2 linked regions of the Homo sapiens genome follow. The protein of the gene in region 2 interacts with the protein of the main gene of each other region in a pairwise test. Each region holds a gene or a part of one and is shown on either strand. Other genes may lie near its edges.

What was found.
Region 1: the proteins of PRDM6 (region 2) and TTC23 interact in binary tests that used the Homo sapiens proteins (3 or more experiments, as listed by UniProt).

The regions. Positions count from the first base shown.
Region 1 is NC_000015.10:99,155,371-99,163,173, forward strand, and holds part of TTC23 (tetratricopeptide repeat protein 23), read right to left. Parts: intron 6,498-7,803; coding exon 6,370-6,497; intron 928-6,369; coding exon 778-927; intron 1-777. UniProt on the Homo sapiens protein: Participates positively in the ciliary Hedgehog (Hh) signaling.
Region 2 is NC_000005.10:123,098,438-123,106,240, reverse strand, and holds part of PRDM6 (putative histone-lysine N-methyltransferase PRDM6), read right to left. Parts: intron 7,015-7,803; exon of another isoform or gene 6,704-7,014; intron 6,588-6,703; coding exon 6,280-6,587; intron 1-6,279. UniProt on the Homo sapiens protein: Putative histone methyltransferase that acts as a transcriptional repressor of smooth muscle gene expression.

The DNA of each region.
Region 1 (7,803 bases), on a different chromosome or scaffold from region 2:
CACAAGATTTATTTATAAATAATGCAATAAAAATACTAGTAAGCTCTTTATGGAGTTAGACAAATTGATACAAAAATTCATGTAGAAAAATAAACACGGAAGAATAGCTAGAACACCTGATATTCTAGTAAAAGAAAAGCCATAAGGGGTGTCTACTCCTATCACATATTAAATCATTCTATAAAATCTCTGTAATTAAAACTGAAATATTGACACATGAATAAACAGAAAGACTAGTGGAAGAGAAGAGAAATCTAGAAATAGACTTAAGTCCATAAGGAAAATCAGTATATGATGAAGGTGTTATCTGAAGTCACTGGAGCATAGATGGGCTCTCTAATTAAATGGTGCTGGACAACTGGGTGGCCATTTGGAAAAAAGGTAAGATTAGATCCATTCCTCATGCCATCCACACAAATAAACTCCAAATTTAAAGAAGAATGACAATTGAAGAAAGTGTAAGAGAATTCCTCTATAAACTCAGTATAGAGAGAGCACCGCAAACATAAAGGACTGATCAATTGTACTACGTAAAAAATTAAAAATATTTGCATAGTAAAAACTGATAATTCATTTAAAAAATATGTATGTCTAAGAGGCTTACTATGTCTTTTACCCAAAAAGTATCAGGTTAGATCTACCACAAAAGTGATGTCATCCTATCTAAACAAGCCACTTCTAAAGTTTCATTTAAAAGAACCACCACAAGGGAGAGAAATTGACCTTGGAGAGGGGAGGGAGAGCCTAGTCTCGTGTTAGTACTGGTTCCAGCTTTACCTTCTTCAGTTTCTTGCGGGCCCCACTGTGGTTCCCCTGCGCCAGGTCTGCTCCTCCCAGGAGCCGGTATGTCTCTGCCACCTCGGGACTGAAATCGCCAAATGCTTCCACTTTGGCTTCCAGGGACTCTCTCAGGATCGAGGTTGCTCTCTGTGAAAGGAACAAAAAGCTATCTGGTTAACAAGCTCAAAGGCTGATTAGGATCATTACGCAACTTGTAACATTTTCACATGGGTGTGGTAGTCTCACGAGCTGAGCCTGTTCTCCTCTTGTATTAGTCCATTCTCATGCTGCTATGAAGAGATACCTGAGACTGGGTAATTTATAAAGCCAAGAAGTTTAATTGACTCACAGTTCCACATGGGTGGGGAGGCCTCAGAAAACTTACAATCATGGCAGAGGGCACCTCTTTCATAGGGCAGCAGGAGAGATAAGTGCTGAGCAAAGGGGGCAAAGCCCCTTATAAAACCATCAGATCTTGTGAGAATTCAGTCACTATCGCAAGAACGGCATGGGGGTAACCGCACCCATGGTTCAATCACCTCCCACAGGGTCCCTACCATGACACATGGGTATTATAGGAACTATAATTCAAGACGAGATTTGGGTGGGGACACAGCCAAATCATATCACCTCTGGTTGAACAAGAGTCAGGAAACAACACGAATGTGAGGAAAGGTGTAAACTATGAAGAGAGAGGACACCTGGCAAAATAAACCCACTCAGCCATTACAGGAATCCATTTCAGTTGAGTAGTAAGAACAAAAGCTGACATGGATCAGTCCTCACATGTCACTAATTGTGCTGAACACACACAATTGTGTGGGTCTCATTTAATTTTTGCTGTCTTCTTTAGATGGGTAAAATTTTAATCCTCATTAGGCAGAGGAGGAAACAGGCACGGCAGTTAAGAAACTTGCTCAGAGTCAGAGGGCTCAGCTGTGGTGGTGCTAGGATCTGAATCCAGCCAGTGATCTTCATACCTTTTTTTTTTTTTTTTTTTAAATCCGTCTCACCGTCTCAGCAGATCTTCCATTTTACAACAGCAGGTGGAAATCTGGAGGTTTTTTTTTTTTTTTTTTTAGACAGAGTCTCTCTTTGTCTACCAGCCTGGAGTGCAGTGGCATGATCTCAGCTCTCTGCAACCTCTGCCTCCCAGGTTCAAGCGATTCTCCTGCCTCATCCTCCCAAGTAGCTGGGATTGCAGGCGCCCACCACCATACCCAGCTAATTTTTGTATTTTTAGTAGAGACAGGGTTTCACCATGTTGGCCAGACTGGTCTTGAACTCCTGACCTCAAGTGATCCACCCACCTTGGCATCCCAAAGTGCTGGGATTACAGGCGCGAGCCACAATGCCCAGTCTAATTTTCATACATTTTAGTCCCATGCTTTTCTCCCTCTGTCCACAATGCTATTCTTACAGAAGTGAAAATATAGCATTCCTGGGCAAATTATCTATGTATAGAACATCCTGAACACACTCCAGGCTTGGCTATTCTCATAGGAAATCGTTTAGGAAACTGAAAGTAAACATTCCAACATGACATGACATTTTGTTTGGTTTATCCAATTTATTTATACTAACATGGAATAAAAATTATGAATTGGTCAGGACATAGTATTTCCTGATATTAGCTTCTTCAGACACCAAAATATGCAGGGGGAAACCCTGTTAAAGTATGTCAATCCTCCATACTTTCTCCAGAAATTCTTCCACGATCTTCCACATGAAGGCACGACATCAGCTGCAGAGCATGGATGCTGAATTTAACTGGCAAATACAGCAGGGACCATGGGAGCTTCCTCATGACACAGCCCCAAAGGGGTCCCAAAAGTGCTCCACAAACAGAAGGACAAGGAGGGCGTTTAATCCTTTTGTTGGCAATAATACAAGTTAGGGGATAGGGCCGGGGTAGGGGAACCACATTACAGGTGCTGATGAGGCAGAAATAAATTTCTCAGGTGAAAGAGGAATCTCTGTAGAGGCAGAGTGATTGTGTAACTCAGCAGTGAGGCCCCACTGAGGTACATGAGGGACTAGAATTTAAATCTAGACTTGCCTGAGGGTAAAGCCCATCACATCTCCCAAGTTCTGAGAGCAAGGACTTGGACTGCTGAGAGTGCTGGGTTTGGTGATATTTCTGTGGGAAAATATCACTGTCAGACTTAGAGGAGCCAGTGATGGGGAGAAGACCCGGGGAGACTCCCTTTCCCAGATAAAGCTTTGGATGCCGCCTACAGCCTGACTGCGGAAACGGGGAGATGTGAAGGAAGTTAAATGGCACGGGTTTCTAGGAAACTGAGATAGTATCAACCTCTGCTAGGAAAAGCTTAAGAGAGAGGAGTGAAGAGTAAAGAGGACTTAGGTGGGATGAGAAGAGGGTATGGGCCACTGGGAGCACAGGAGGAACACATGGCCTGTTGAGGGCCAGTGAGTGGCCAGGCTGAGGAAGTCACAGAAGATTCTTGAGCAAAAGAGTGGCACAACTAGAAGACAAACCCTCACGGAGTAGCTTAACCTGTGGCAGAGTGACCTTCACTTACATTTTACCTTAAAAGGCATTTCATCCCTCAAATATCATGTTCCACAGTGCCCATGGCCATGTGCTGTGGGAACACCTGGGATGGCCTGAGCACAGCCCCATTCTTGGCTCCGGGACTGTCCCTGGGCCCGGCCCTTGTTGGCCAACACCTGCTAGAACCCACAGTGAGAGGTTTGCAACCAAATGGTGAGAACAGCATGAGACTGCCATGTTTGGCTGGGCAGGTGGTGCCACACACAAGGGTGCCTGGCAGGAGCATGGGGAGGGCTGAAATCCAGCCTATGGTCCTCTCCAACATGGGCGGTATCTACCTGAGGAAGGGGCAGCTTTTTCTATTATGATAAGGGCATTGGATGGGCTGGCAGTGGCCCTAGAATGAAAAGAGCCAGTTTGCTAAAATCTTCGAGGGCAGCTTAGGAGAGTGAGGTGCATCTTTTGATCAACACTGATCTGGGTGACTTGGGCAAGGGCAGTGAGGCATAGCATCAGTGACACTGAGCATTGGCTGACTCAGCAAGACACTATGGTGGGAAGCCAGGCAGTACAGGGGAACTGATGCATGGCCCACAGGAGTCAGAACAGTCAGCTGGCCTGTGGCCAAACATGCATCCACCTCTCTGCTCATCACTCCTCACCACAGGCAAGAGGGTCTCTGCTTTCACAGGTTCGGTCTAGTTGCAAGATAGATGTTAAATATCCACATGAATATATACTTACAAATATTTGATGACATCAAATGGATTCTCTAAGGAAGAATAATGGGGAGTATCTAATGAAGCCTGGGGAGAGGAATCAGAGAAGCTGGTAAGAAATGAAGAATGGGTTAGCATTGGCCTGGAGATGAATGAGGAAGGGCCTTCCAGGAGGAGGAAACAGAAGCTGGCACTGCCCGGAAGTGGGAATTAGAAAAGGCCAGTGTGGCAGGAACATGGATCAGGGAGAGGAGGCAAAAATGAGCCTGGAAATGTCAGTGGAGTCCAGGTCGTGGACGGTACTGTGGGCCATGTCAGGATTCTGGTTTATCCTGAGGGCATCGGGGAGCCAGTGGACTGGCTTTTACAAGTGAGTGTTCAGTGGTCAGATCTGCTTTTTGGAAACATCACCATGGCTTCCTTATTCTGAGTGGATTAGAAGAGGGCAAGCATGGAAAAAGCAGCTGAGAGATAGGAACTTGTTAGAGCGGTCCAGGCAAGAGATGATGAGTGGCAGGACTAAAGATGGAAAACAATGGATGCATTCAAGATCTATTTTGGAGGAAAAAATGGCTGAGGAACTAGATGGAGTGGGGCATGAGGGGGCAAACCTACCCCATTATTCTGACCTGAGCACTCCCCTTGTCTTCTAGAGATGTGAGGGGGGAATGGGGAGGGAGTCTGAGGCCCCTGGAAGGCCCCTCTCTCTCCCTGGGGTTGGGTGACTGAGAAACATCCTGAAACTCCAATTTGTCCTGGTGATTGTGGCCCTACTTTGGCCTGAGAAACATAGGTATATCGGCATAAAAGCCCGTGTTCCCTAGCTGACAGAAGGCGGGGGTGGAGGGGGGATTAAGGATGAGAAAAGAGCTGTGGGGGAGGAGGTCTACAGACGGTAAGGGAAATAAAGTTTTTCATTTCCAAGATTTGCCATGATAGGTTAGAGTTGAAAAAAATACATAGTCAGCCCTCCATATCCATAGATCAAAAATTATATGGGAAAAAACAATAAAAATAACAATACAACAATAAAAACAATACAAATAAAAAATACAGTGTAACAACTACTACCATAGCATTTACATTGTATTAGGTATTATAAGCAATCTAGAGATGATATAAAGTATTCAGGAGGCTTTGTCTAGGTTATATACAAATGTGACACCATTTTGTACAAGGGCTTGAGCATCCTTGGAGTTTGATATCCTTGGGGGCTCTGGAACCAATCCCCCACAGATACTGAGGAACAACTATATATATATGTGTGTGAGTGTGTATATATGTATGTATGTATGGTTTTCTAGGAAATTGAGATGGCGTTAACCTCTGATAAGAAAAGCTTAACAGAGGCCGGGCGCAGTGGCTCACGCCTGTAATCCCAGCACTTTGGGAGGCTGAGGCGGGCGGATCACGGGGTCAGGAGTTCAAGATCAGCCTAGCCAAATGGTGAAACCCCAACTCTACTAAAAATACAAAAAAATTAGCTGGGCATGGTGGCGGGGGCCTGTAATCCCAGCTACTCGGGGGGCTGAGGCAGAAAATTGCTTGAACCCAGGAGGCGGAGGTTGCAGTGAGCTGAGATTGCACCACTGCACTCCAGCTTGGGTGACAGAGCAAGACTCTGTCTCAAAAAAAAAAAAAAAAAAACTTAACGGAGAGGAGTGAAAAGTAAACAGGACTTAGGTGCGCTGAGAAGAGGGTGTGGGCATACATGCACACATACATATATACATATATATGCACACACATATATATAATTGTTCCTATCTGTGGGCGATTGTATATATATATATGTATTAATATGTACACACACACACATATATAAAAACATAAAGCAATGGTATGTTAGGCTTTGCAGGGAATGCATTCCCAAGGGTTTAATTCCCAATGAATATAAGGTCTGGGTCTTGCTCTATTTTCATAAGCCACGTAAATCACGCTTGTACGAATCAATACTAAACAACTGAGCTGTAACTTCTGCACCGTATAGTTTTCCTTAGACATGCAAACTCCATTCATTACCCAAACTGAGGAGAGAGGGATTAGACACACTAACTGCCACACTATTCCAGCCAGATCTGCAGGACTTCAATAAGCAGGGCCTGTCCACTATTTCTTTAGGATCTTTTGTAGGTGGGCATGACAATCTATATTCTCATAAAGTCTCCCAGCTTCTAAGAGCAAGTATCTCTGGAAGCTGCCCCAAAGGAGCCCTAGCCTTATTTATGTGTCCCTCTAGAGACTGGCACATGCTTTGCACACAGTAGATGCTTAATGGATGCTTGCAGAGTAAAGGAGTTGCCCTTTGGATATCAACTGTGAATAACTAGACAATTGTGATCCAAACTCACTTACCTCTTTTTGTCCAGTCATTTGTAGAAAATGGCAAAATTCATCTTGAATTGAAAGAAATTTGGTTCTTCCCATCCCTTCAGAATCCTTAAGATGAGCCATGCTCTCTTGAAAATACTGCTCAGCTACATCTGAAGAAAAGCATTTATCATAACTTTGAAAACTGCTCACAGATTTGAAATGGAAACAGAATAAATATACTGTTAGCAGTGTTGAGCTATTTGGAAAGAGGTATTGGGACAAGAAAAAACAGTTAAGACTGTCCTTTGCCCATTAATCTGCCTGTTTCATTAGAAAGGATTTAGGTCTTGAAGGATACCGTAATTTACTTTCTTTAATTTTCATACATCTAGCTTTCCCGGTGATACATAAAGAAAAGTTACTGCAAAAGAAGAAACTATGCCCCACATCTGAACACACTGGTAAGTTTTCAGGTTGATCAACCACTAATTCTTCCTATAACTTTAGTTATAGGGTAACTATGACTTTACTGAGGGTAGGACTCTGAAAGTTCACTTATTTTGATGGATTTGGAGTATAATCTTGGTACATATTTCTAAAACATGAAAAATCTGGAAAATATTGCTGACATGCCGCTGAGGGAAGAAATCATTCAAAACCCCAATCATTCCAAATACTTCAACATACTGGTTATAATATAACACAAATATTTTTAAATGCATGCCAATCTTGAATGCAAGAAAAAGAAAACCTCAGGTATGGAAAATGACGAGAGAACTAAAAGCCAGAGAAGTGAGCGGGAGCTGAGGTTGAATGGCCCGTAAGCATATTAGAAAAAAGGTCCATCTACTAGTACTGGGGTTTTCTAAGCCTGAGCAGGACTAGGGATGAAGCCTGAGGCTCATTTGTGGTGGAAAGCTGAATAGGACTCCCTGCAAAAAGCTGGTGTGGCCGGCAGAATTCTAAGGTGACCCGTGGCCCTTGCCCTTGTGTAGTCCCTCCCCTGTGGTTATGGATGGAACTTGTGAGTATGAAGATATAGTTCTCCTGAGATGAGCTTATGTTATAGGGTACAGCTGACTTGAAGAAAACGAGATTATGGCCGGGGGTGGTGGCTCACACTTGTAATCCCAGCACTTTGGGAGGCCAAGGTGGGAGGATCGCTTGAGCCTGGAAGTTCAAGACCAGCTTGGTCAACATGGCGAAACAAAAAATAAACAATACCAAAAAAAAAAATTAGCCAGATGTGATGATGTGCACCTGTTGTCCCAGCTACTTGGGAGGCTGAAGTGGGAGGACTGTTTGAGCCCAGGAGGTTGAGGCTTCAGTGAGCTGTGATCATACCACTGTATTCCAGCCTGGGTAACAGAGCCAAGACCCTGTCTCAAAAAACAAACAAACAAACAAACAAAAACAACAACAACAACAAAAAACAAAACCAGAAAGATTATCCCCTGGGCCAGACTTAATCACAGG
Region 2 (7,803 bases):
AGCCCGCCACACATAGATTGCTCTTCTCAGTTAAACCTTGGCCAATTGATTCCAGCCAATAGTGTGCTGTCAGTACTTTACTTACTGCTCAATCTCACTAACCTGACATTTATGGTGCACTGATTGGCCTCTGTCAGTGGTGCTGGTTGTAAATTCACTTTGAAAAGCTTTGTGTTAACAGCCTTCAACCAGGCTCCAAGAAGAGTACGAACAGGCAGCCTGACAATTGCTCGACCTCCTGCCCTTATTACAGTGAGTAAATCAGGGTTTGAGCCATTAGGCTGGAGCCTGGGGCCTACACAAAAAGGATTGACATGACGAAAGGTCAACCTCTGTCACACATGTGTAACAATTTGGATAATGGAATTCTGTAACTTATTTGAGTGAGGTGGCAAATGCTTACAAGGAAAAGTATATTCTGCTCTGGCTTCTCTGACTTTTATGCTAAGTACTTATACCGAAGTCTGTATTTCCTGTGTAAATATACAAGGAATGTCTGAACTAATGAAATCTTGGGGTATATACGATCCTAAAAAAGAATGAAAGAAAAAGAACGAAGGAGGCAGGCTCATAGTTGTTCTACATATAGGGTTCTTTAGAATAGCAAATGGTTTTTCCCATACTACCAGTGTATTAAATCCATCTTCTGAGACAAGAGGACTTTGATATTGTAGGCATATTCCCCAGCTGAGTAATGTGTAGTTTTTCATATTCAATCACAACAATTTTTAATCCATATTATACTACAACTGTAAGTGATTTCTGGGTAACACAATAGATATTCTCAAATTAAAACTGCTTTAATTTACACAGTGAAATAAGAAGATTCCCCTGCAGGCTTCTTGGGACCAGTGTTATGGTATGACATTTCCATCAGATCACTTGCTGCCAGGCAGTGACTGGGGAGGGCAGGTTTCATTTACCCACTAACCTCTGAGATACTGATTTCTCTTTTTATACCTTACTTTTAAGTCAGTGTGGGAAAAGAAAAAAAAATTACATGGTGTAAGAAAATATGCAGTTATGGACCAGTAAATATTTGTGAATTATTTTCTTCATATTGAGAAAATGCTATTGATAAAAGAAGCAATTTGTAAAAATAGATAAACTGAACTAATGAGAAAAATAATCCGGTGGATACAGAACTCATCAGTCTTTATAAAGTGTTTGCAGCTAAAGCACTGTAGTGTCACATGCATGTTGGGATTAAACCTCACTGATGTGAGAATGTCCAAATGGCTGTTATAATTTTTTTTTAAAGCAGAATTATTCTCGGACTTAGAAAACCAAGGGTGGCACTGTGCAGCATGATACATAAACCAAAAGGACCAGAACTTTAAATGGACATTTTCAAAGCAACTTAAAGTACTAAGTTTTGACTTTTAACACAATGCTGGAAACCATTCCAAGAGGTGGCAGATGGTTTTACAGTTTATGTAAAACTACAAAATGCTCACACTCTATCAAATAGGCACCACTATAAAAGACATCTTCAAATCAAATGAGGCAAAGCCAGAGAGATACACCAGCTGTTACTCTGCATAATTTAAAACATAATAGTAGCATTACTATGGTTTATTTTTAAGGAGAAATTATTTGAATTTCACAAATTTGACATATTCAAAACCAAACTGACAGGCAGACTATTATATTAAATGATAAATTGCTGAAAAACATGATTTTTACTTCAATATAACTGCGACAGCTACATAATTCTATCCCCTAGTGTCTTGGTGAATCACGCCAAAATGAGCCAAAGTCTATAAAGCAGAATATGGAATATATAATTACAGTACTATCACTGCGACAACTTTTAAGTGATTCTAATTTAATTGAAAATGATTAATTTAAAATAATTTTTTCAACATCTAAATACATATAAGTGGGTATAGTACTGTATATATGAAATTGAGTCATTTATAGAAACATACATAATATATTTAAAATATGAAATCAATTCATTTTCTTCTAGAACCAATTACCTATGATGGTTTTGAAATATAAACATTTAGCAATGTGTAATATATTTTTAATATTGGTTTTCATTAATATATTTTGACTTAAGCTAAGCAGTAATGATGAAAAATAGACCATTTGCTTAACAGCAAAACTCTTATTAAATCTAAAATATTATGGCACAAAACCAAATCACAAAAAGGCTCACATTATGTTATCCCCCTTGATTTTCTGAAGAAAAATAATGAAGGTTTCCACATAGTGCAAATGAAAACGAGACACTCAAATTTACTCAGGCAAAGAGAAGACAGGTTCTGTAAAATTAAAGCCCTTTCTAGTATCTTAACTGTATTACTAACAAGTCACTACATTATTTCAATTAGCAGGATAATTTTTCTAGGGTGAAAATAAGTGCAATTTATTTTGTCATTCTTGCTAAAATTTCTTGTCAAGTCAGGCACTGAGTTGAAAGGCCTGAGTAATTCTAGCCTATCTTAAACTGTAACCTTATTTTAAACTTCCGTATTTTATTCCAGTAGAATTTTAAGTATACACTGGGTACATTCCTCAGGTCCAGTCATATTAAATTCTGATGTTAAGCAGAAAGAGGAAACCGTGTGCAACTAGATTAATTTATCTCAAGAGAAAGGGGGCACATTAATAATTGAGATAATGTTTTCATAAATGTTGGAATCAAATGTGCCTTTTCACTTCTTTATTGGAAAACACATTAGGATAAAATTATCTCATTCTCATCAATAAGACCTAATTGCTGAGAAAGATTGTTTTCTTTGGAAAACATTGAGAAAGATTTTATTTCATATGATGTCCAAATAGCTAGAAATGTATCATGCATCCAAGTCTTGGAATAAATATATATAACCAAGGCAAGTCATTGTCTGATGCACCTTGTAATGTTTTGTTTTAAAGTATCTGAATTTATTATTGTTTAAAAAACACATTAAAATTCTGATTCTAAAAGAAACTAGCAAAAATAAATGACTAATTATTTGGCTTTTAGCTTGTAATCTTCTTAAACTATAAAAAATAAAAAATTACCTTGGCTTATTGCAAAAAAAGAAAAAACAACTCTCTTGGAATTTCCCATAAATACCCAGAAGAGTCAAAATGTACTGAATATAATGAAATGATATTTAACTTCCTTTAAATTGCTGTATTTTGAAGAACTATGATTATACACAAAGAAAATATTAACTAAAACAATGATTGCATGCTTACAAACCAAACAAGCTCTCCATGGCTGATGTATGTTAAATAACAAAAAGTCATTTTTCTACAAAGAAAATAGAGCTTCTAATGATTAAATAAAAGGAGTAACTAAGGTGAATCTGATTGTTTCTGTAATAAGCCTTCATGTGTATAATAAAGTACAACCATACTAAAAACAATGAAGTGTAAACTGAAACAAAAATCCATCATCTACTTGGAAATAGTGACAGGAAAAGATTAGCAATCCATTTATTGTACTGAAATAAAGATAAGTAACCCTGGTAAGATCCATCAGGACCTGAGTATTGAACTTGAAATAAAAAGACATTTCTTCATCAGCAAATGACTTGAAAAAATGTGAGGAAGAGAAATGATTACAGTTGCCTTTTAAAATAAAATAATCATGATTCAACTGCTTTTAATTTTTTTAATACATTTTGTTGACTTGCTATTCTGGAAGACATCTAAAAGAATAAGTTTTTGAAATGGATAATTATTACATGAGTCATTAAACAATTATTGCCAAACATTTCCGATAGACCTACAATGTATTCTACTTACTGATTCTAATGTGAATAATATGATGATTTTTTTAAATTTCAGAAGAAAATTTAGCTTTGAAAGAAAGAACTAAAATTTAAGGAACAATCTAACATTTGGAATATTGTATTATAAATGTAACAATTCAAACGGTCATGTTTCATAAAAATAAATCATAATGCTTAAAAATTTTAAACTCATATTCTATATCTTAAAAATCATTATGCTAATAAAAATCTGAAACCTATTTTATAAAGTAAGTATTTTATTTTACAAATGGATATTGGCACTAAGTTACCTGGCCCCAGTTAGTCGCATTTCACGTGATCTCCCAGGAGACTGACACATTTTGTATGGCTAAAGTTTTAAAATCCCTTCAATTCCCAAATGTACCTTATTCTAACTGTTGTTACAGATAATTAAAAAAAATAGATTATGTCCTGAATTTAGGAGTTGGATCCTGTAGATCATCCAAGCATACACCCAGCAAGTCTTTTTTCTAACAGAGAACCAACTCTAAGAACCATCCCAGCACACTCAACTCACATGCCCTGAACAATAGATAAAATTCACTTTATATCTACTGAAGTATCAAGAAAAAGAAAAACACTGACTAAATTCCCCAGTCTCTTTACTACAACAAAATTTTAACTTCATCAAGTACAAGTAAAGGTAGAAAAGAAAGGTTTCATAGTTTTCAGTGTTAATATGCATTGTTATAGTCTATATGTGTAGTGGCCTCCTGCCAACATCCCAATCATTCAAAGCCTTCTGGGGGGGAAAAAACCCACAATGAACTATGAGATTTTTGTTCATGTTTATGTCTTTGTCCCCTGGCACTCTAAAAATAGATAGGCATCAAAGGGCAATATAATAGTGTTCAGTTTTAACATTTTCAGGTAGAGTAAATTTGTACTATTGAACAATTGCTGTACGATTTTCTTAGAAAAATATTGGCAGACCTTTAACTATATGATATTAGAGTTCCTAATAACACTACTGGAACATGAGAAGTACCTAAAAGTGTTTTATAAACTTTAAACCACATTGGAGGTTACAATTAATTAGTCAGAAACAAAAACCAAAATGTTTCCAAACCAGATGCTTTGAGCCGGGGCACTCCAGCAGATAACTATAGGGTAGGTAGTTCATTGGCTTCCACGTCCTCATTTTGGGCTGCTGGGCTGTAGACTCATACACTCAGCTCCTCCTCCATCAAAAGAGGCTTTGCAGACACAGGCCTCAGGACCCCATCCCCAACAGTCACAGGAGGGTTCCGGATACCAGGTCTGTTTTTCATACTGTATCTCCATGGCCTAATATAGTGCTGGCCAGAGTGGGCACTCATCAAAAATTTGAGTGGATTAATGAGTCCCATGAGCTTTATTTAGTGAATATAAGGCAGCTCACAGTGAAAAAGATCATTTTGACAGGCCAGCAAGCCAAGTATGAGAGGCAATCTCTTGCAGAAACGATGCATTAATGGAGCCCAGGGGTTCATGTCAACCTGACCCCTGGCATTTAAGAAACTTTATTTTCTAGCTATTCCTACTTTATTATACCACTTGCCCAGTTAGTCAGATTTACATATTGTTTAAGGGTATGACTTCTGTCATCTTGTATTACATAAGCAACTTTCCATGGATGGAGGTGGCTAAGATTGGTAGGGGGATGACCTAATGATAGGCATCTATCTCTTCAGAAGTGAACCTCAATAATCCACCATGATGTTTTGGGAGAAACCTCAGGCTGACATTTTTCAAATAGGTTATTTTTAAATAATTGCTTCAGGTAAGATTGTGCCATTAAAGTATTACCCTCAATTGGGTTACACCAAAGTGCTCACACTGTTCCCATGTTTTGATTTTCCATATTGATGAAGATTACATAATTTCCGTTCATCAGAGAAGCAGCAGAATTTGCGATTTCTGATTCCCAATATAATTTGCTTAATTTGGGCCCTTTGATTCCCAATATAATTTGCTTACTTTGGGCCCTTTGAAAGTTGTGAAACATGTGATCTCTCACGTTCAACTTTGACAAAATTGTTTTTATCTGAGAAAAGGGGCCAGCCTCTCCTTCCTCCCCTCTATGCTTCTGTTCCTTTCTGCTCACTACACAGAAACACACTGGAAGTGCTTGGAATGGGACATAAAGGTCACCCAGCTCAAACATTCTAATGCCCACCCTCCGCTGCTCCATCTCCTCAGCTGTTTTCTCTTTTTCTCAAAATTCACAGAGACCAACGGTCAAATCCATTCCAGCTGGAATGGAGGCAGCTTAAGGTGACTCTGTCTTCAGACACCTGTAGGCTGTTTCCCTGGCTGGGTTGCTATTGTGTCAGTCCCAGCTCTGTCAGCCTCCTTACTGCAGGTGCTTCAGACACCAGGCATCTACAGGACCAGAGAAATCTATTCTCCGCTACCCTCTGGGGGCCAAGGGAGGCTCTCTTCGCAGTTGCCACAGCCAAAGGCCAGGCTCCCTGCCGGCCAAGGCTCCCTGCTGGCCAAGGCTCCTGCTCGGTGGGGAGGCGCTGTGCAGCCGGCCACTTACCTCCCAGAGATGCTGCGTGTTCCTCACGGCGCCTGCCTGCACCTTCTCTGGGGGCAGAAGCACGCCTTGGAAAGGTCCAATCCAGGTGCCTTGCTGGATCCTCTGCGCCGCGCAGATGCCGTAGGCCAGGCCGGGCACAGTACTGGTGCAGAGGCACACCTCGCGAGGCAGGTCCCGCAGCCACTCCGGCAGCTCCGGCGGGGGCGCGGCGGCCGCAGCGCTGCTGGTGCCCACAAGCCGGCGCAGCGAGTGCAGTGGCCCATGCATAGGGCACTCGCCGTTGCGGTTGTCCGCGCACATGTCGCAACCTGCGGGAGACAAGAAGGAGGAAGGGAAGGGAGCGGGTTAATCCGGCCGCCCCGAGCGGCCCATCTTTGAGTAAACTCCCGAGACAACAGCATCACCGCCCGCCTGGGTAAGCCACCTTCGAGGAAGGTGATGCCTTGGGGGCACCGAAGCAACTCAGAGGAGGAGGAGAAGAGAACCCGCGCCGCTCCCTTGGAATTCGCCGCACCCAGATCTGCCTGGTACCGGGCCAGGACTCTAGGCTCCCCAAAAAGCCTTCGGATCTGGGCGCAGATAGCATGTCCGCTCTCCACGGAACCGACAGTTCCAGGCTTCTTCCTCCCGTTTCAGTCTCTCTGCATCTCTCCCTCTGTCTCTGTCTCTCTCTCTCTCTTCCCTACTGTCTCTCGTTCCTTCTGACCCTCTCGCCCATTCCTGAGGTTTCTATCTGGAGTTTCAGGATGTGTTTATCCTTGTATTGCGAAAAAAAGCCCGTCTCTTGCCCAATCTGCTGTCTCGAAGAGATTCTATACTGGTCGTCTGGGTATTCAGCTTTCCTCTTTTTACAATTACACAGGAGACGATTTAAAATCACCAGACGGGGCGGGGTGGGGGAGACGGCCAGTCTATCGCGGGTGCCATTCGCACTTCCTTCGACCCAGAGACTCGGAGGCTTCCTCGACTGCCTCCCAAACGCCACGGGACGGGGCAGAGCAAGCCTGCAGCCCGGTAGAGCAGGAGCCGCAGCCCCAGGACTCCAAGGGCGCGCCCGAAATGGGGTCCCTCAAGCGACCAGTCAGTTCTCCCTCCAGGCACTGAAGCAGGGCGGGGACAGGTGGGGCGGGGTGGGGGACCGGGGTGCTGTTCTGGAGGGTTTGGTGTGCACGCTCTCCCTAGACGCCGGAAGAAAGGAATAGCAAATTTAACGATCAGCCTAATTGTTAGAGAAGGCACCAACTCCTGCCCCGACGGCTGTTCTCCAGGCTAAATGCGATTCTGTTGTGCTATACAATGGGTGAAGCTGTAGATAAAGCTGTCTCTCTCCGACACTCTCCAAAGCAGCCTGCGCGAGAGGGACCCCCACCCTCCGGGCCGGGCGGTAGTGGGCGCCCAGTATCCCTCCACTCGAACTGGGCTGGAAGGAGGCAGGCGGCCACGGGAAATAGAGCCTGTGGCGACTGCGCTGTCGGATCGCAGCGCCCTCCGGGTTATTAATGGGCCTGGAGGAGCCGCCGTGTC